Linked DNA regions of Homo sapiens. The protein of the gene in region 2 purifies or fractionates together with the protein of the main gene of each other region. This does not show direct contact. Each region holds a gene or a part of one and is shown on either strand. Other genes may lie near its edges.

Evidence for each region. The genes of interacting proteins can lie anywhere in the genome.
Region 1: the proteins of ATAD2 (region 2) and SYCE3 purify together in Homo sapiens (co-immunoprecipitation; one large-scale study listed by IntAct). This does not show direct contact.
Region 3: the proteins of ATAD2 (region 2) and MAGEB3 purify together in Homo sapiens (co-immunoprecipitation; one large-scale study listed by IntAct). This does not show direct contact.
Region 4: the proteins of ATAD2 (region 2) and ASF1B purify together in Homo sapiens (co-immunoprecipitation; one large-scale study listed by IntAct). This does not show direct contact.

Annotation. Positions count from the first base shown.
Region 1 is NC_000022.11:50,552,920-50,556,419, reverse strand, and holds part of SYCE3 (synaptonemal complex central element protein 3), read left to right. Parts: intron 1-14; coding exon 15-123; intron 124-3,500. UniProt on the Homo sapiens protein: Major component of the transverse central element of synaptonemal complexes (SCS), formed between homologous chromosomes during meiotic prophase.
Region 2 is NC_000008.11:123,319,350-123,323,447, reverse strand, and holds the end of ATAD2 (ATPase family AAA domain-containing protein 2), read left to right. Parts: intron 1-381; coding exon 382-510; intron 511-2,272; coding exon 2,273-2,314; 3' UTR 2,315-3,598; downstream 3,599-4,098. UniProt on the Homo sapiens protein: May be a transcriptional coactivator of the nuclear receptor ESR1 required to induce the expression of a subset of estradiol target genes, such as CCND1, MYC and E2F1.
Region 3 is NC_000023.11:30,229,448-30,233,456, reverse strand, and holds the start of MAGEB3 (melanoma-associated antigen B3), read right to left. Parts: upstream 2,801-4,009; 5' UTR 2,640-2,800; intron 1,941-2,639; 5' UTR 1,839-1,940; intron 1,391-1,838; exon of another isoform or gene 1,315-1,390; intron 631-1,314; 5' UTR 541-630; intron 196-540; 5' UTR 94-195; intron 1-93.
Region 4 is NC_000019.10:14,130,090-14,133,589, reverse strand, and holds part of ASF1B (histone chaperone ASF1B), read left to right. Parts: intron 1-3,500. UniProt on the Homo sapiens protein: Histone chaperone that facilitates histone deposition and histone exchange and removal during nucleosome assembly and disassembly. Cooperates with chromatin assembly factor 1 (CAF-1) to promote replication-dependent chromatin assembly.

The DNA of each region.
Region 1 (3,500 bases), on a different chromosome or scaffold from region 2:
TGTGCATTGCCTAGATGGATGATGCTGACCCTGAGGAAAGAAACTATGACAACATGCTGAAAATGCTGTCAGATCTGAATAAGGACTTGGAAAAGCTATTAGAAGAGATGGAGAAAATCTCAGGTAGGATGTGTGAACCCAAAAGTATCTGAGACAGGTCTCAATCAATTTAGAAAGTTTATTTTGCCAAGGTTAAAGATGCACCTGTGACACAGCCTCAGGAGGTCCTCAGGACATATGTTCAAGGTTGGCAGGGTACAGCTTGCTTTTATACATTTTAGGGAGAGAGAATACATCAGTCAGTACCTGTAAGATGTACACTGGTTCGGCCGGGCGCGGTGGCTCACTCCTGTAATCCCAGCACTTTGGGAGGCCGAGACGGGTGGATCACGAGGTCAGGAGATCGAGACCATCCTGGCTAACACAGTAAAACCTCGTCTCTACTAAAAATACAAAAAATTAGCTGGGTGTGGTGGCAGGCACCTGTAGTCCCAGCTACTCGGGAGGCTGAGGCAGGAGAATGGCATGAACCCGGGAGGTGGAGCTTGCAGTGAGCCGAGATGGTGCCACTGCACTCCAGCCTGGGCGACAGAGTGAGACTCTGTCTCAAAAAAAAAAAAAAAAAAGATGTACATTGGTTCGATCTGGAAAGGTGGGACAACTCAAAGGGGGATGATTCCAGGTTATAGATAGATTTAAATTTTTTCTGATTGGCAATTGGTTGAAAGAGTTATGGTCTAAAGACCTGGAATCAATAGAAAGGAATGTCTGGGTTATGACGGTAAGGGGTTGTGGAGACCAGAGTTTTATCATGCAGATGAAGCCTCCGGGTAGCAGGCTTCAGAGGGAATAGATTGTAAAAAGCTTTCTTATCAAACTTAAGGTCTGTGTTCATGTTAATGCTAGTCACCTTTTCCTGAATTCCAAAAGAGAGGCAGGTATAACGAGGCATACCCAATTTCTCCTTCTCCTCACGGCTTGAACCAACTTTGGCCAAGCAATACACCCACCTTGGCCTCCCAAAGTGTTGGGATTACAGGTATGAGCCAGCGTGCCTGGCCAAATAGCTTTTATTCACTAGAGCAGACTTTAGAAAATTTCTCCTTAGAAATGTTTGCAATTTTTTGCCTATGTACTTTTGAACTATGAATAGCTGAGACACGTATCAGTTAATTTAGAGAGTTTATTTTGCCAAGTTTGGGGACACTTATCTGTGACACAGCCTCAGGGGGTCCTAATGACATGTGCCCAAGGTGGTCAGAGCACAGCTTGGTTTTATTTATTTATTTATTTATTTTAAGACAGAGTCTCGCTCTGTCGCCCAGGCTGGAGTACAGTGGCGTGATCTCGGCTCACTGCAAGCTCCGCCTCCCGGGTTCATGCCATTCTCCTGCCTCAGCCTCCCGAGTAGCTGGGACTACAGGCGCCCGCCACCACGCCTGGCTAATTTTTTGTATTTTTAGTAGAGACGGGGTTTCACTGTGTTAGCCAGGATGGTCTTGATCTCCTGACCTCGTGATCCGCCCGTCTCGGCCTCCCAAAGTGCTGGGATTACAGGCGTAAACCACCGCGCCTGGCCTTGTATTTTTAATAGAGACAGGGTTTCACCATGTTGGCCAGGATAGTCTTGATCTCCTGACCTTGTGATCTGCCCGCCTCAGCCTCCCAAAGTCCTGGGATTACAGGTGTGAGCCACCGCGCCTGGCCTTTTTTTTTTTTTTTTTTTGAGACGGAGTCTTGCTCTGTCGTCCAGGCTTGAATGCAATGATGTGATCTCAGCTCACTGCAACCTCCGCCTCTCGGGTTCAAGTGATTCCCCTGCCTCAGCCTCCTGGGTAGGTGGGATTACAGGCGCCTGCCACCATGCCCAGCTAATTTTTGTATTTTTAGTAGAGACGAAGTTTCACCATTTTGGCCAGGCTGGTCTCAAACTCCTAACCTCAGGTGATCCACCTGCCTTGGCCTCCTGAAGTGCTGGGATTACACGCGTGAGCCACCACGCCCAGCCAGCAAACAGTTTTATGTAGTGAAAAATCTATCAATATTTTCCTTTCTGATTTATTGCCATTATTTTGACACCTAGAAAGTCTTTCCTCAATCTGAGATCAGTGAAATATTTAGTTGTATTTTCTTCTACTTTTCTCCGTATTCCTTTTTAACATTTAATCCTAACCCATCTGGCATGCCAAATGACCTACGCTGCGTATTGCTTTTTTTTTTTTTTTGAGACAGAGTCGCGCTCTGTTGCCCAGGCTGGAGTGCAGTGGCACAATCTCGGCTCACTGCAAGCTCTGCCTCCCGGGTTCACGCCATTCTCCTGCCTCAGCCTCCCGAGTAGCTGGGACTACAGGTGCCCGCCACCATGCATGGCTAATTTTTTTTGTATTTTTAGTAGAGATGGAGTTTCCCCGTGTTAGCCAGGATGGTCTCAATCTCTTGACCTCATAATCTGCCTGCCTTGGCCTCCCGAAGTGCTGGGATTACAGGAATGAGCCACCGCACCCAGCCGCATATTGCATTTTTATATAAATCTGCTACAGGCTGGGCACGGTGGCTCACACCTGTAAACCCAGCACTTTGGGAAGCCGAGGCAGGAGGATCACAAGGTCAGGAGTTTGAGACCAGCCTGGGCAATATGGTGAAACTCCATCTCTAATAAAAATACAAAAATTAGCTGGGCGTGTTGGTGGATGCCTGGAATCCCAGCTACTCAGGAGGCTGAGGCAGGAGAATCACTTGAACCCAGGAGACGGAACTTGCAGTGAGCCGAGATCATACCATTGCACTGCAGCCTGGGTGACGGAGCGAGACTCTCTCTTCTGTGATAGTCCCTGGGCATAGAGGGAGGGTGTTTGTATCGTTTTAGCAGCAGGGCATTTGCAGTGTAACAGATCCGGGCCCAGTGCGATGCCAAATGAGGGAGATTCATATCTTTGGTCATCTGCAGAATACCATGATTTTAGTTTCCTTGGAAGCAAAATGAGGGGAGATAAGTTTGACAATTATAAGAGTAATTTGTGCATTAGAACAGAAAAAGGAACCTATTCCATTAGGGCACCAACGAAAAATATGAGGAAAAGTTACAATCTGGTCCTCTCTAGAGGATTATTGTAGCCAAGAAACAATGATTTAATTTGCACTCAAAAAAACGTTATGGCTGGGCGCAGTGGCCTGTAATCCCAGCACTTTGGGATTTTATTTATTTATTTATTTATTTTGAGACAGGGTCATACTCTGTCACCCAAACTGGAGTGCAGTAGTGCAATCTTGGCTCACTGCAACCTCCACCTCCCAGGCTCAAGGGATCCTTTTTTTCATCTCAGCCTCCTGAGTAGTTGCAACTACAGGTGCACACCACCATGCCCAGCTAAATTTTGTATTTTCTGTAAAGACAGGGTTTCAACATGTTGCCCAGTCTGATCTCAAACTTCTGAGCTCAAGTGATCCACCCACCTCAGCCTCCCAAAGTGCTGGGATTATAGGTACCAGCCACCTTGCCC
Region 2 (4,098 bases):
TTTAGTTTCACATAATAAAATTAGTTAAAATGTACTTATACTATCATAAAATCCCCTGCAAAAAAACTTTGCTTTTCTCCTGTTAATCTAAATTGAGGTTAGTTTTTAATTTGTTTGTAGATGCTTATGGCTAGACTTAGAATTGGCAATCCCCTCAGCTCTAGTTTTTAGAATATGAGTTACTCAAGGTCAAGGCCAGGATTATAGCTAGACTTAAGTACATTTAAATGTCAGAGCCACTGCCAGAGGCTGCCCTGTGTCATCAGATGGCTTGGTCTACCCTCTGTCAGGCTTGTAATAATTGCCCAAACCTTCTAAATTAAGTATCTTGTCTGAGGAAGTTTCTCTCTCACACATATTGACACTCATATTTTCTTTTAGAATCTTTTGAAGACTGTTGTTAAAAAAAGTCAAAACTACAACATATTTCAGTTGGAAAATTTGTATGCAGTAATCAGCCAATGTATTTATCGGCATCGCAAGGACCATGATAAAACATCACTTATTCAGGTAAACTCTTGAGTGGAAACTTTTTACAAATGCTCTTGTGGTCACATTAATATATCACTTATGTAGGATTGTTGAGGCTTTATTTAATCTGTGTAAGAAACTGATTGTAGGAACTTAAAGACCATCTTTCTATTTCCAAAGTTGATGTCCCATTCCATAAAGATCATTTTTAATATGTGGATTATGAATTATTTCTAAATGCAAGTGAGTTTAGTATTTTTCCAATCTATAACTTAATTAGTTTGTTTGTTTATTTATTTATTTATTTAGAGACAGGGTCTCTGTCGCCCAGGCTGGAGTGCAGTGGTGCGATCTCAACTCACTCACTGCAGCCTCCACCTCCAAGGTTCAAGCGATCCTCCTGCCTCAGCCTCCCAAGTAGCTGGGACCACAGGCACCTGCCATCATGCCCAGCTAATTTTTGTGTTTTTTGTAGAGATGAGGTTTCACTATGTTGCCCACGCCGATCTTGAGCTCCTGAGCTCAAGCCATCCAGCCACTTCAGCCTCCCAAAGTACTGGAATTACAAACGTGAGCCACTGCACCCAGCCAATAGTTTGTGTCTTTAATAAATAGTGGAACATAAACTATGAATACCCCTTTTGTGTGTATGTATTAATGAAGAATAATAGCTTCTTTTAAGACTTGTCAGCCAGGCACAGTGGCTCATGCCTGTAATCCCAGCACTTGGGGAAGCCAAGGCGGGTGGATTGCTTGAGCCCAGGAGTTCAAGACTAGCCTGGCCAACATGGTGAAACCCCATGTCTACTAAAACAACAAAAACTAGCCAGATGTGGTGGTGTGCACCCATAGTCCTAGCTACTCGGGTGGCTGAGGCATGAGAATCACTTGAACCTGGGAGGCAGAGGTTGCAGTGAGCCAAGATCAAGCTACTGCACTCCAGCCTGGCTGACAGAGTAAGACTCTGTATGACAAAAAAAAAAAAAAAAGACTTATGTACTTAATCTTCCTTTATAGTAGGTATTATAGTGTTAATTAGAGCATTAATACTTATTTTTGAGACAGGATCTTTCTCTGTGTGCAGTGGCAAGAACATAGCTCACTATAACCTGGAACTCCTGAGCTCAGGCAATCCTGCCTCAGCTTCTCAAGTAACTGAGATTATAGGCAAGCACCACCACACTGGGCTAATTTTTAAATTTTTTGTAGAGATGGAGGTTTTGCTATGTTGCCTAGGATGGTCCCAAATTCGTAGCTTCAAGCGGTCCTCCCGCCTCAGCCTCCCAAAGTGCTGGCATTAACAGGCAGGAGCCACCATGCCTGGCCTTATTATTATTTTTAATAACAGATCATTTCACTAGAGAGTGCTAAATTTTAAAAAAAGATATTACTTACATATGCATATTATTGGTAACTACAAAATATAAAAATGATAACCATTAGTATATATATAGTATTTAGTATACCTACTAAAGTATACTATGTAGTATATATATAATATTGATACCTACAAAGTGTAAAATACTAAACTCTAACTACATCAGTACCTTGATTAATACTATTTGAATTTAACATAAGATGAATGCACCCCAGACTCATTTCAAAGTTATTTAAATAATGAAGTCCTACAGGTAAAATCTATGTGGCAGTCTTAAATACTGAACTGAATGTTTATTTTCACTATCAAATATATACCTGAATATTAATATTCTTAAGGTTGTTTACTGAAAAAGTAATGAAATGTTTCTTTAGCTTATTCCATATTGAAACTTACTATTTGCTCTTCCTCCCCTTTATCTAGAAAATGGAGCAAGAGGTAGAAAACTTCAGTTGTTCCAGATGATGATGTCATGGTATCGAGTATTCTTTATATTCAGTTCCTATTTAAGTCATTTTTGTCATGTCCGCCTAATTGATGTAGTATGAAACCCTGCATCTTTAAGGAAAAGATTAAAATAGTAAAATAAAAGTATTTAAACTTTCCTGATATTTATGTACATATTAAGATAAATGTCATGTGTAAGATAACTGATAAATATTGGAACTTTGCTAGAACAAGACCCTGTAGTAATAGTAATAATAGTTGAAGTTTGGCCAACTCTTAATAAAGTTATTTTGGTAACTAATGTTTTATGGCACTTAAGAATAATTAGCAGCGTTAAATTTTGTTTGTATTAAGCACTTTTAATTTTATCCTTCCTAAAAATAGTTTATTGTATCTGACAAGAAACTTACTTAACCATTGTGTCCTTCCCATCTTTTTTGTCATCTTTGTTTTCTTCAAATGCCCTCCTCCCATCTGCCTTGAGATTCCCTCGTCTTCACTTAAAAGCCAGAGTGCAAGTCATGATTTGCGGGAGGGCTCTTGAACCACTTCTGGCTGCACCACAATTCTGTACTTGAGTATCACAGTCATTGTTTTTGAGACAAACATTTTTATAATTCTAATTTGGGTTAATAAAGATTTTAAATATTTCTTGGTTTACTTTTGTAATTATATACACAACAAATGTATTAATAACTACCTTGTTAAACACCTTTTAATAGCACAAGGTTTTTATATTTGCAAGCTGTTGATATCTTTCTAAAACTGTTTAGGTTATAGTCTATTGATACTTTTTATATACAATTTTATAAATATAAATATTATAATTTTATATTAATGGTACCAAAAATACATTTCTTAAGGTTAAAAGCATGCACTTCCATGCATACTTGCTTTTGGGGAGAGTGGGGAGAAGACATTCTAATAATCAGTTTGTGAAATAGCTTCTGTTGGAAACCTTTTGAGGGGAATAAGGAATGGTCATCTAAAATGAGAGATTCTGGATTTTAATGCAGTTCAAAGTTGAGCTGTATTTTTGTTGTTGATTTATCTGGATTTTTTTTAAAGCCTTCTAAAACCCAGTGAATTCAATACCTTAATTAGTACATACTATCTTATGTAATGCATAAAGCAATGCCAGTCACTGAGAACATTTAAATATATTTATATTCCTGGAGATACACATTCTCATTTTTGTTGGTTTATTATAAATTATTCTTCTAGATGCATCTTTTATAACTAGGATTTCATTTTGTGTGTATAGCTTATGTAATAAATTTTAAAGGTGAAAACTCTCTTAAATTTGTTTCTATTTCTTAAGTATTTTAAAACATAGCAAAGATAATTCTGTGCAAAAGAAGTGTAAAGTCTGTTCTTTCATATATTACTGTGAAAATTTAAAGTGCTGTTGACACTGGAATGTTTTTATATGGTACATGTATTTTAGGTACAACGACTAAAGTGCTTCCTGAAATGTCTTCTACAGATTTTAGAAGTGTTATGTCTACATTCCTATGTAGAGTTTGAAAACCATGCTGAAATTGCAGTGTTGAATGTTATCTCCCATTTGTTGCTCAAAAGTGCAGTTAACGCAAGAAAAACAAAAGGAACTCAGAAAGGAAAAAGTGAAATTCTCTTTATTTACAAATGCCATGATTTTATATGTAGGAAATCCTTTTTTGAGACAGAGTCTTGCTCTGTCGCCTAGGCTGGAGTGCAATGGCATGATCTCGGCTCACCACAACCTCTTCCTCCCAGGTTCAAGCGATTCTCCCGCCTCAGCCTCTTGAGTAGTTGGGACC
Region 3 (4,009 bases), on a different chromosome or scaffold from region 2:
CTTTCTTTCTTTCTTTCTTTTTTTTTTTTTTTTTTGTGACAGGGGCTCTCTCTGTCTTCCAGGCTGGAGTGTAGCCGCGCAATCTTGACTTACCACAACCTCCACCTCCCAGTCCTCGAACTCCTGTGCTTAAGCGATGAGGCTGGCTTCGTCCTCCCAAAATGTTGGGATTACAAGCGTGAGCCAGAGCCCTGCCTTAAAATTAAAAAAAAAAAAAGTTTATATCTATTTATTTATTTATTTATTTATTTTGAGATGGAGTCTCGCTCTGTCACCCAGGCGGGAGTGCAGTGGCGCGATCTTGGCTCACTGCAACCTCTGCCTCCCGGGTTCAAGGGATTCTCCTGCCTCCACCTCCCGAATAGCTGGGACTACACCTGTGCCCCACCACGCCCGGCTAATTTGAGACAGTGTCTCTCTCTGTCGCCCAGGCTGGAGCGCAGTGGCGTGACCTTGGCTCACTGCAGCCTTGACTCCTAGGGCTTAAGCGATCCTCCCACCTCAGCCTCCTGGGTAGCTGGGACTACAGGGGCAGCTCACCTCCCAGTCCGCGAACTCCTGTGCTTAAGCGATGAGGCTGGCTTCCTCCGCCCAAAATGTTGGGATTACAAGCGTGAGCCACAGCCCTGCCTTAAAATAAAAAATAAAAAAAAGTTTATATTTATTTATTTATTTACTTATTTTGAGATGGAGTCTCTCTCTGTCACCCAGGCGGGAGTGCAGTGGCGCAATCTTGGCTCACTGCAACCTCTGCCTCCCGGGTTCAAGCGATTCTCCTGCCTCCGCCTCCCGAATAGCTGGGACTACACGTGCGCCGCACCACGCCCGGCTAATTTGAGACAGTGTTTCTCTCTGTCACCCAGGCTGGAGCGCAGTGGCGTGACCTTGGCTCACTGCAGCCTTGACCCCTAGGGCTTAAGCGATCCTCCCACCTCAGCCTCCTGGGTAGCTGGGACTACAGGGGTGCTCCACTGCTGCCCCGCCATTTTTTTTTTTTTTTGTAGAGACAGGTTTTCGCCATGTTGTCCCGGCTGGTTTCGAACTCCTGGGGGGGCCCAAACAGTTCACTCGCCTCGGCCTCCCAGTGTGCTGGGATTACAGGCCTGAGACGCCGTACCGGCTTGGTCTTCATCTTGACTCTAGTTAGGGCCAAGAGACCTCTGAAGAACTGAGGCTGCCCTGTTAGAGAAAGCCTTCCCCTCCCTGAGACCCGCCAGGCTGAAATGAGAGGCAAGCCAGTTTTATAGTTCCGCCTAGGGCTTTCCAGGGTTAAAAACATGGATTGTCCCTTCAGTCCCCGCTGAGGGTTCTTACCTTTACTCCGGATCAGTTCTAAGACTCACGCTAGGCCACGAACCTGACTGAAGCTATTGCACCCGTCAGGCCAACTGCCTCACTTTCAAAGCGGAAGTGAGGCTGAGCCACACCCCGCTCGGGGTCTCCGAGGGCTGACAGCAGCGGGTGACACGCTGGGACCCCACTGTTCTGGAGTCAGTGGTCCCTAGGTCCTTATTCAGGGTTCTCACCTTGATACTAAGCGGAGCAGAGTAACACCTCTACTGAGCGAAGTCCGCCAACCTCCAAAATCCTCCCCTCCCATAGTCCCTAGAGGGGAAGTCTAGGCATGTTATCGGACCATGTCCTGGGGCTTCAAAGACCTGAAACAGGGTTAGGGCTTTTGGTGGGCCCTTCTTTTGGAGAGAGGTTCCCTGGTTAGCACCGGTGGGCCTCATATTTCTTTCTTTCTTTCTTTCTTTTTTTTTTTTTTTTTTTTTTTTTTGTGACAGGGGCTCTCTCTGTCTTCCAGGCTGGAGTGTAGCCGCGCAATCTTGACTTACCACAACCTCCACCTCCCAGTCCTCGAACTCCTGTGCTTAAGCGATGAGGCTGGCTTCGTCCTCCCAAAATGTTGGGATTACAAGCGTGAGCCAGAGCCCTGCCTTAAAATTAAAAAAAAAAAGTTTATATTTATTTATTTATTTATTTTGAGATGGAGTCTCGCTCTGTCACCCAGGCGGGAGTGCAGTGGCGCTATCTTGGCTCACTGCAACCTCTGCCTCCCGGGTTCAAGCGATTCTCCTGCCTCCGCCTCCCGAATAGCTGGGACTACACGTGCGCCGCACCACGCCCGGCTAATTTGAGACAGTGTTTCTCTCTGTCACCCAGGCTGGAGCGCAGTGGCGTGACCTTGGCTCACTGCAGCCTTGACCCCTAGGGCTTAAGCGATCCTCCCACCTCAGCCTCCTGGGTAGCTGGGACTACAGGGGTGCTCCACTGCTGCCCCGCCATTTTTTTTTTTTTTGTAGAGACAGGTTTTCGCCATGTTGTCCCGGCTGGTTTCGAACTCCTGGGGGGGCCCAAACAGTTCACTCGCCTCGGCCTCCCAGTGTGCTGGGATTACAGGCCTGAGATGCCGCACCGGCTTGGTCTTCATCTTGACTCTAGTTAGGGCCAAGAGACCTCTGAAGAACTGAGGCTGCCCTGTTAGACAAAGCCTTCCCCTCCCTGAGATCCGCCAGGCTGAAATGAGAGGCAAGCCAGTTTTATAGCTCTGCCTAGGGCTTTCCAGGGTTAAAAATATGGATTGGGCTCCGAGAAGTCCCCTTATTTGTGGGTTTAGTTTTCCCTTTTTTACTCACTCAAGAACCTCACTTCGCTGCTGGCCAGTCCTGGGACTCCACATTCCATGCCATGAATCCTGCTCAGATCAAGGTCCTCCGAGATCTAGGCTGAAGTTTTGATGAGCCACATTAGGCCAGGGATGTTTGGGTCCTGTGAGGGCAGACAGCGGAGTCGGGTTTCTATGGGACATCACTGTTCTGGCTCCTCCTGTTCTTCATTCAAGGTCCTCCCTGATATCTGCCAGACCCTGGATCCTCCCTCTAGTTAACTGAGGTCACCTTAGGTCAAAACTCTCACTTCACTGAGAACTCTGAAGGGTAAAAGAGAGGATGCTCAGTCTGACTGCACTGCCTGGGGCATTCTAGGCTGAGAAGAGGTTTGGGTAGATTGCCCCGTTATCTTTTGGTGTGGTTGTCTTTCCAGTATTTATTTATGGGTGTCCTCCTTATTTTCTCTTGCCTCTCTGAATAAAGGCTTCCTGGGAAATGCCACATCCCTGCAAACTCTTGGGCAGCGTTCCTACTGCAAACCTTGCAAGTCTGTGCCCCAGGGCTAATGTGAGGTAAAGAAATTATAACACAAAGCAGGGAGTCCAAGGTAGCTGGTGGGTTGTCAGAGAAAAATGATGCTGATTTACTCTTTTCAATAGCCAGCACTAGCCTCTTATGTGACTTCTGTTTTAATTGATTTACTTCTTAAGGGGAAGGAGCTGTTCAAGATGATTGTGTGGTCCCTGATTTTGAGGTTATCTGACTGTGCATATGTAGATGATCATATTGTCACTGAATAATATCTCTTTCTCCTCTTTATTTGTAGCTTTCATTTATTTTGATATTCTTTATTGCTTTGGCTATGTATTCCAATCCAATTCTTTGGGCACAGAATCCTTCTTTTTAACCCCTGAGATATATTTGGAAGTATTGAGAAGAAAAGTGAATTAAAGAACACAAAGTCTGCTCCAGGCAGAGAGGAACAGAATGAAGAGTGTGGGCTCTAGAAGAATTCACAACAGGAGTCTAGTCCCAGCCCTGTCACTTACTCACCCTGTGAACTTGAGCATATTACCAAACTCCAAACAAAGAAATTATAATCAAACAAAATGCTGCTTAGCAAGGAAAATTATATAATTTATAAAGTGTTTGTGGAAGAGCCTTCTCCAATTGGATACAACTCAAGTCTCAAAATTTTTGTCAATGACCAATATTTTTTTCTAACTCCTAGGCACCCTTCTATGTTAACCACTCCTGTTTTGATTTTTATTATTTATTTATTTTTTTTTTTTGAGATGGAGTCTCACTCTGTCACCCAGGCTGGAGTGCAGAGGCACTATCTCGGCTCATTGCAACCTGTGCCTCAGGGCTCAAGTGATTCTCGTGCCTCAGCCTCC
Region 4 (3,500 bases), on a different chromosome or scaffold from region 2:
TTCAAGCGATTCTCCTGCCTCAGCCTCCCGAGCAGCTGGGATTACAGGTGCCTGCTATGACGCCTGGCTAATTTTTGTATTTTTAGTAGAGACGGGGTTTCACCATCTTGGCCAGGCTGGTCTTGAACTCCTGACCTCAGGTGATCCGCCCGCCTCAGCCTCCCAAAGTGCTGGGATTACAGGCGTGAGCCACTGCGTCCAGCCTCTGCTGATCATTTTTTAATAGAAATGGAGTGACTTCACCAGAGTCACACAGCCAGTTTGTAGAAGTATTGGCACTGAAGTTTTGAATCTAAATTCTTTATCTTTGCTCCAATCCAGGGAAAGAAAGGAAGGATTCCCTGTTTCAGGGGTGGAGCATAGATAGGAATGACCACAGAATTTATTGCCTAATCAGGACACTCAAAATGCAGTGAAGGGAAGTGCTATTATTATTATTTATTTATTTATTTATTTATTTATTTATTTTTGAGATGGAGTCTCGCTGTGTCACCCAGGCTGGAGTGCAGTGGCGTGATCATGGCTCATTGCAAGCTCCGCCTCCCGGGTTCACGCCATTCTCCTGCCTCAATCTCCCAAGTAGCTGGGACTACAGGCGCCCGAAACCATGCCCAGCTAACTTTTTGGATTTTTAGTAGAGACGGGGTTTCACTGTGTTACCCAGGATGGTCTCGATTTCCTGACCTTGTGATCCGCCCGCCTCGGCCTGGGATTACAGGCGTGAGCCACCGTGCCCGTCGTATGATTATGATGATGATGATGATTATTATTAGAAATGGAATCTCACTATGTCACCCAGGCTACAGTGCAGTGGTGCAATCTCAGCTCACTGCAATCTCCACCTCTCGAGTTCAAGCGATTCTCCGGCCTCAGTATCCCAAGTAGTTGGGATTACAAGCTTGAGCCACCATGCCCGGCTAATTTTTGTGTCTTTAGTAGAGACGAGGTTTCACCATGTTGGCCAGGCTGGTCTCAAACCTGATCGCAAGTGATATGCCCACTTCAGCCTCCCAAAGTGCTGGGATTACACTTTGAATCCTAAGCGCCTGGCCAGAGAATGCTATTGTTAATTGTACCTGGATGATAAAGCTTTTCCTTTGAGTAACTCAAGTGAGAAATCCTGGCTCTTCCAGTCCTAGGGCTCTCTGTGACTGATCTGCCAGCTTGCTTTCTGCCTCCTTCTGGACTCCTCTCCATGAAAAAGGGAGAATCTGCCTCACTCTCAGCAGCGTCAACTGAAAATCTGACAAAACCCCCAACCCAGCTGTGTGAGGTGGCTCATGCCTGTAATTCCAGCACTTTGGGAGGCTAAGGAAGGAGGATCTCTTGAGCCCAGGAATTTGGGCCAGCCTGGGTAACATAGCAAAACCTTGTCTCTACAGAAACATCAAAAAATTAACGGGACTTGGTGGCACGTGTCTGTGGTCCCAGCTACTCAGGAGGCTGAAGTGGGAGGATTGCATGAGCCCAGGAGGTCAGGGCTGCAGTGAGCCATGATTGCACCACTGCACTCCAACCTGGGTGAGAGAGCAAGACCCCCATCTCAAAAAAAAAAAAAAAAAAAACCACCCTAACCCCTAAGCCCCAGTTGGGTGACCCCTATTTCTCAGGGGCCCCAAGCCCCCTTTGCACTTTTATCTTCCACATCTGGAAATAGATTCTTCCACATTTAGCTGAGAAATTCAACAGACACTGGTTGAATAAGTCATAGAAGCCAGATGTTCTGACCCAGAAATAACGAAGTTGTTATGGCAGCAGAGCTCATCTTTGATTATGAACAAAGGCAAAAAGCAAACAAACAAAGGAGGCCTGGCATGGTGGCTCACGCCTGTAATCCCAGCACTTTGGGAGACCAAGGCGGGCAGATTACCTGAGGTCAGAAGTTCGAGACCAGCCTGGCCAACATGGTGAAACCCCGTCTCTACTAAAAATACAAAAAATTAGCCGGGTGTGGTGGCGGGCGCCTGTAGTCCCAGCTACTCGGGAGGCTGAGGCAGGAGAATGGCGTGAACCCAGGAGGCAGAGCTTGCAGCGAGCCGAGATTGCACCACTGCACCCCAACCTGGGCAACAAAGCAAGACTCCATCTCAAAAAAAAAAAAAAAGAAAAAGCCAGGTGTGGTGGCTCACACCTGTAATCCCAGCACTTTGGGAGGCCGAGGCGGATGGATCACAAGGTCAGGAGTTCGAGACCAGCCTAACCGACGTGGTGAAACCCCGGCTCTACTAAATACAAAAATTAGCCAGGCATGGTGGCACGCAGCTATAATCCCAGCTACTCAGGAGGCTGAGGCAGAAGAATCGCTAGAACCCGGGAGGCAGAGGTTGCAGTGAGCTGAGATTGTGCCACTGCACTCCAACCTGGGTGACAGAGCGAGACTCTGTTTCAAAAAAAAAAAAAGAAAAAAAAAATGGCCAGGCACAGTGGCTTACCCCTGTAATCCCAGCATTTTGGGAGACCAAGGCAGGTGGATCATCTGAGGTCAGGAGTTTGAGACCAGCCTGGCCAATGTGGTGAAACCCTGTCTCTACTAAAAATACAAAAGTTAGCCAGGCTTGGTGGCAGGTGCCTGTAGTCCCAGCTATTTGGGAGGCTGAGGCAGGAGAAGCGCTTGAACCCGGGAGATGGAAATTGCAGTGAGCCCAGATTGCGCCATTGCACTCCAGCCTGGGCGACAGAGCAAGACTGTCTCAAAAAAACAACAACAAAAAAGCAGGAAGCAGACTTTTTAGCTAGTTCAGCTATACTAATTGTGTACATGTCTTTAGTCTTATCATTTATATATATATATATATATATATACACACAAACACACAGTGGAGGTATGTCTTGCACAGGGACTAGCTTGTGAAGTTAGCGCAGAGAGATAACATGGGACACAGTTGAGTTGCCTTGACATTGCTCAGAAGGTTAGGTACACACGTCATGTGTACAGCTGTGTCCTGTACTCATAGCTATGAGTTCCTGCTGTATTGGTGATTTGTGTCCCATGTATAATTCTAAAGAAAGATTATATTTAGAGATGAAATCATACACGTATGTCTCTACTTATAACACTGCAGCCAGATTTTTTTTTTTTTTTTTAAAGAGATAGGGTGTCACTATGTTGCCCAGACTGGACTTGAACTCCTGGGCTTAAGCAGTCCTCCCACCTCAGCTTCCTAAGTAGCTGGAACCACAGGTGCACATCACCATGCCTGGGCACTTCAGCAAATTTAAGATGATTCTCGACTGGGCATAGTGGCTCATGCCTGTAATCCCAGCACTTTGGGAGGCCAAGGCAGGCGGATCACAAGGTCAGGAGATCGAGACCATCTTGGCTAACACAGTGAAACCCCGTCTCTACTAAAAATAGAAAAAAAAATTAGCCGGGCGTGGTGGGGGGTGCCTGTAGTCCCAGCTGATTAGGAGGCTGAGGCACAAGAATGGCATGAACCCGGGAGGCGGAGCTTGCAGTGAGCCGAGATCGTGCCACTGCACTCTAGTCTGGGCAACAGAGT